Regions from separate parts of the Homo sapiens genome. Here region 1 is linked to region 2. Evidence: fine-mapped expression QTL. A gene starts in region 2. The other region holds a variant in brackets. All regions are shown on one strand. Distances are from middle to middle.

Region 1 (2,762 bases), 160 kb before region 2:
CTCACATGTTGGGCAAGTGGCTCCCTCCTGTGCCAAGAGTGCCCACAGCGCTCACCCTTGCACAATGCTGCTTGGGCAACAGCGCCCCGGGCTTTGCATGACGGTGGCCGCACAAGCACAGCTGTGATGGTGCCTGGGGATGGTGCTCTCGGTTCTGGTGATGGTAAATGTGGTGAGTTTTAGGTGGAAGCTTGCCAGAGCCGGCGCTGCCTAACAAGGATCACGACTATCAAATGCAAGGGGGGCTTTTTGGTGAAAAGTAGTCTTAGAAAGCATGTTGTCTTACCCAGTGAGATGGGAGAGCCTGTAGCGCCTCTGACGTGGTGGCAGCCGTGGAGAAACAGGCTACTCCCACGTTTTCTGTCTACAGAGTCGCTGCCTGAGCCAGGAGGCTACGAGCGCTGGTGGCTGCCTTCATCCCGCAGGCACCACGTCACCACTCAGCCTTTCTCAGATGCCTCGTTGCCTCGTTGTCAGTGGGGGTCGTTGTCCTGTACCTCCAGGCCACCCCAGCGCAGTGACTGCGTGAACAGAATTGCTTTGGGGTTTTATTTTTTTTTCCTGTGGGTTCTTTGGCATAATGCACCATTTCTGTTGCATTCTGAACCTGATGACAGCAGCCCTGGGTCAGAGGTCGCCTCCATAGTGAGTGACAGGCGCCTTCAGGGTGAGGTGGGGGAGGAGGTAGCCAAATACGCCCAAGCATAGCCTGTCCTTGGGAAGGAAACATTAAATCCCAACACCCACTTCGAGAAACATTGTTTTCCGCAATAATCTTTTCAGTTCGTAAGTAAGTAAAATTCTTTTGTAATGTACTTCGTTTTCTTCTTCTTTTTTTTTTTTTTTTTGAGATGGAGTCTTGCTCTGTCGCCCAGGCTGGAGTGCAGTGGTGTGATCTAGGCTCACTGCAAGCTCTGCCTCCCGAGTTCAAGTGATTCTCCTGCCTCAGCCTCCTGAGTAGCTGGGATTACAGGCATATGCCACCACGCCTGTCTAATTTTTGTATTTTTAGTAGAGATGGGATTTCACCATGTTGGCCAGGCTGGTCTCGAACACCTGACTTGAGGTGATCCGCCCACCTCAGCCTCCCAAAGTGCTGGGATTACAGGCGTGAGCCACAACGCCCGGCTAATTTTTTGTATTTTTGTGTAGAGACAGGGTTTCACCGTGTTAGCCAGGATGGTCTCAATCTCCTGCCTCGTGATCCGCCTGCCTTGGCCTCCCAAAGTGCTGGGATTACAGGCGTGAGTCACTGCACCCGGCCTGTACTTACCAATTTTTAAAAGGCTGAGGTAAACAAGTCCGTGACCACTGATGGCCACGCCTGTGTCACCTGTGGAGCAGCCCTCAGGGCACCACGGCTCTCCTGGGGTTGTCTGGCCCTGCGAGGCAGCGGAAGGCCGTTCTTCTGCATTGGGACTTGAGGATTTTGTTGGGCCGTTGCCTGGCCAGCTGTGTGCAAGTTTTCTGAGTTTGTGAAGGGACTGGGAGGCTCCCGGGCACCTAGGACGAGGGCAGCCTCAGTGCTGGACCCTGAGGAGCACAGCGGTCCTGACAGCATTCTCCCCAGGACGCGTGCGGCTGCCACAGCCCCTGGCTGGGTGATTTAACTGTGACCTGGCCATGTTTAAATCACTAGGAAAGTTGTTGAGCCGTTCATCTGGCGTCTTTTATTCATTCATTCATTCATTCATTCATTCATTCATT[T/CATTT]TGAGACAGAGTTTCACTTTTTTCAGCCAGGCTGGAGTACAGTGGCTCGATCTCGGCTCACTGCAACCACCACCTCCTGGGTTCAAGCAGTTCTCTTGCCTCAGCCTCCTGAGTAGCTCGGACTGCAGGCACACGCCACCAGGCCTGGCTAATTTTTCTTTTTTTAGTAAGGATGGGGGTTTCACCATGTTGGCCAGGCTGGTCTCAAACTCCTGACCTCACGTGATCCACCCACCTCAGCCTCCTGAAGTGCTGAGATTACAAGTGTGAGCCACTGCGCCCGGCCTACGTCTTTTTTATTGACATGAGTTCAGAGTGAACATTTGTGCTAGAATTTTAATCTAGACGATTTAGAGATGAGATGTTGTCTCAGGTTTTGAGTCCCAAATGCAGATCTAGAGAGGGGTCCTGGAGACACTGAGGAATTCTGATCCCAGGCTGGCCCTGGCCCTGGCATTTTCCTTGTTTGGGCTGAAGCTCTCCCCGGCTTGGGTCATGATCTGAGCGGCGCGTGGGCATGCGTGCTCCTCACAGGTGCCGCTCCAGTGCAGCCATGGACCTGGGCAGAACCTTCCAAGGGCTATTGTGTGGCTGCTGGGCAGATGGAGTTGGCATCTTTCAAATTGCATGTATGCCTTACCGTGTAACCTCCTCTGTATCTGTGTCTGTCACTGCATGTCTGGTTTCAGGCCCTGGTGGCTCTGACACTGCCCTCTCCCCACAGGAGGACACGCTCTCTTCATGGGCCATGCCCGGTGACCACTTTTGGACCAAAGGCCTGTGTGCTGCAGAACCCCCAGACCATCATGTGAGTGCTGGGGCCCCAGGACGGGGGGTTCTTGGAAGGGAGAGAACCCCTAGACCATCATGTGAGTGCCGGGGGCCATGGGATGGGGGAGTCCTCGGGATGTGTGTGGAGTTGTGGGATCGCTGTGTTGAGGAAGATTCTAGCACTTCATGTGAGAAGTACATGTTTAGGTCATTTAAACAAAAAGCCACATGGGCGTCCTCCCTGAACCCCCTGAGTGCAGGCATCCGAGCGGGGGCTCCCCAGC
Region 2 (2,762 bases):
ATATACCATCATCCAGGCTCCTGCCCTGCCCCACTGCCCATGCCCTCACACCTGGGGGCTGAGGGGCTTCCACTGGGAACTGGTGGCAGTAGGTCGGCTGAACCCCTGGGGAGTTCTGGGCAAGGACATGGGGGTCCCCTGAGTCACCATCACTCTCTGCTTCCCTGGGGCAGCCCCTGAGTCGCCTCACAACGCTGGGGCAAGAGTCAGAGCCCAGGGTTTGCCCTTCCTAAGCAGAGGTGGGAGCTGGGGGCAGGGGGCAGGGAGCGCCTCTCCCAAGGTCTCTGCCCCCAACCTCTCTGCGCCAGGTGCAGAGGCCTCAGCAGACCCTGCCAGGGGCCCAACAGGCTGGTGTAGGGGGTCAGGGCCCTCCATGCCGGGGACGGAGGTGCACCGTGACCACAGTTGGTGGGGGCCTGACCGCTGGGCCGGGGCTCTGGCAGAGCCCCTGAGATCCTGTGGGGTCCTGACCACTGCACTGGGTTTTTCAAGATGACCAGGAATTCGTGAGGCTGGGTGGTGACTCCGTGGGGGGGCGGAGACATGGCCATCCAGAGGTCGGGGACCAAGGACACCGTGAGCAGAATAGCCAGTCTCTCCTCACTCTGCCCCCAGGCAAGGAGAGCACAGGAAGGGGTTGCAGGAACTCATGGTCCAGTTGCCAGAGAGCCCCCCACAACCCCTGCAGACCCAGAGCTGGCTCAGCGGAGGTGCCAGCCCAGCCTTAGGTGCGAGGCTTGGCCTCCTTTCCAGTTAGGGCAGGCCGGCCAGGCCCGGCCACGTCTGCATACACAGTCCCTGGCTGTAGTCCTGGCCCTGGAGGGGTGTCCTGGTTGCTGGGTGATCTATGCAGGGACGGGAATGAGGGGCAGGGGTCTTGGGGTGTGTCCCGCCTTCCCCTCCCCCGTCGGTGCCACCTACTCAGTGCACCGGGTGGGCTTTTTGGATTCCCTTTGTCCAGCCCTGACCTCCCCACAGCCATCGGGAGGGCCCCCCAGAGCGCATCTGGAGGAGGAGGGGGCGCAATGAGGCAGGGAAGGTCGGCGCCCTGCAGCTGCCTCCGCTGCGTGTGGAGCGAAGGGAGTTCTCACCTTGCGAAGTCTCATCTGTCAGGCTTTCCTCCGGGTGGGCGCTGTCCGTCCTGAAAGGAACAGAAGCCGCGGGGTGAAGGAAAGTCTCCGTGCTGGTCCCCACCCCATCGGTATGGGCAGGTACCCTGACTGCGCGGGTCCCCGCCGCGGGTCCAGGGCGGCCAGCGTTGGGGTGCAAGGCCCGGGGTCCTGCGCGTGCCAGACCGCTGCGCCCCCATCGTAAAGCACGAAGTCCCCGACTGGTGTGGCCACGGGCGGTCGCGGAGCTGCACGACGCGAAACGAAGCCGGCCACAGCCCGTGAGTTTCGGCTCGGAAAAGCCGCAGGGGTCCAAGGTGCGCTCACTAGGCGGGAAGCCGGGAGAGCGGCGGCCCTGCCCGCACCCCGCGCCCCTGCCCGCACCCCAGCCCCACCGGCACTCCGGCCGCCTCGCTGCGTCCCCCTCCTCCCCCCCACCCCCGATCCCCCGCACCCGTAGGCCGCGGCCCGGCGAGGGTTAAGGGGGGCGGGGCGAGGGGCGGCCCCGCCTCCGCCGCCGCGCCGGGTCCGAGCGCGCACGGGGCGCGGGGGCGGGTCGGAGCGGGCGGCGGCGGAGGGCGCGGCGCGCCGGGGATCGCGGGGAGCGGGCAGCGGGGACGGCGGCGGCGCGGCCCGCGTGACCCAGCGCCGCGCCCCGTGGCCCCGCCGCAGGATGCGCGCCCCGCCGCTGCTGCTGCTGCTGGCCGCCTGCGCGCCGCCGCCCTGCGCCGCGGCCGCCCCGACGCCGCCGGGCTGGGAGCCGACCCCCGACGCGCCCTGGTGCCCCTACAAGGTGCTGCCCGAGGGCCCCGAGGCGGGCGGCGGGCGCCTGTGCTTCCGCAGCCCCGCGCGCGGCTTCCGCTGCCAGGCTCCGGGCTGCGTGCTGCACGCCCCGGCCGGCCGCTCCCTGCGCGCCAGCGTCCTGCGCAACCGCAGCGTCCTCCTGCAGTGGCGCCTGGCCCCGGCCGCCGCGCGCCGCGTGCGCGCCTTCGCGCTCAACTGCTCGTGGCGCGGCGCCTACACGCGCTTCCCGTGCGAGCGCGTGCTCCTCGGGGCCTCCTGCCGCGACTACCTGCTGCCCGACGTGCACGACAGCGTCCTCTACCGCCTGTGCCTGCAGCCGCTGCCGCTGCGCGCTGGGCCCGCCGCCGCCGCGCCAGAGACCCCCGAGCCGGCCGAGTGCGTGGAGTTCACCGCCGAGCCGGCCGGCATGCAGGACATCGTGGTGGCCATGACGGCGGTGGGCGGCTCCATCTGCGTCATGCTGGTGGTCATCTGCCTGCTGGTGGCCTACATCACCGAGAACCTCATGCGCCCGGCCCTCGCGCGCCCCGGCCTGCGCAGACACCCCTGAAGCGCGAGGCCGCCCGCCCATCTTTGCGCCACCTGCCTGAGGGCGCCTGAGCTCCCAGGTCCTCCGCCCGCTCTCCTCTCCTCATTCCTGCTGCCTCCTTAAGATCCCCGCGGAGGAGGACCTGCCGGCGACGGCTCCGGCACTTTGGCATCATCACACGCCCTTTCCAGCCGGGCGTCAGACTCCCAGACTCTGGCCCCGGATTGGCCCCTGGGCTTGCGCTGCTGTGCCAGCCGCATCCAGGGCTCTCCCCGCTCTCCGCAGGCCTTTATAGAGGCGGCCAGGGCATGGAGCCCCTT

What was found. PIP is the estimated chance that this variant, and not a neighbour inherited with it, causes the effect.
Region 1: its variant is fine-mapped to the expression of FNDC10 in whole blood (INTERVAL, PIP above 0.99).

What each region holds. Positions count from the first base shown.
Region 1 is chr1:1,761,705-1,764,466 of GRCh38, reverse strand. NADK (NAD kinase) reads left to right here. Exons shown (of 12, transcript NM_023018.5): 3 at 2,432-2,515. Among named protein-coding and RNA genes, the nearest start is that of NADK, 15 kb to the left of the region's middle. The variant T/CATTT (reference allele first, on the strand shown) is at 1,708.
Region 2 is chr1:1,599,036-1,601,797 of GRCh38, reverse strand. It overlaps FNDC10 (fibronectin type III domain containing 10), which reads left to right and starts at 1,663. Exons shown (of 1, transcript NM_001242659.2): 1 at 1,663-2,762. The coding sequence starts at 1,783. The coding sequence ends at 2,463. It overlaps LOC105378586 (a long non-coding RNA gene), which reads right to left and starts at 2,365. Exons shown (of 3, transcript NR_147951.1): 1 at 2,182-2,365; 2 at 1,092-1,141. RefSeq lists silencers at 31-173, 1,587-1,636, 1,937-2,056 and enhancers at 530-1,189, 1,190-1,849, 1,850-2,509, 2,510-2,762.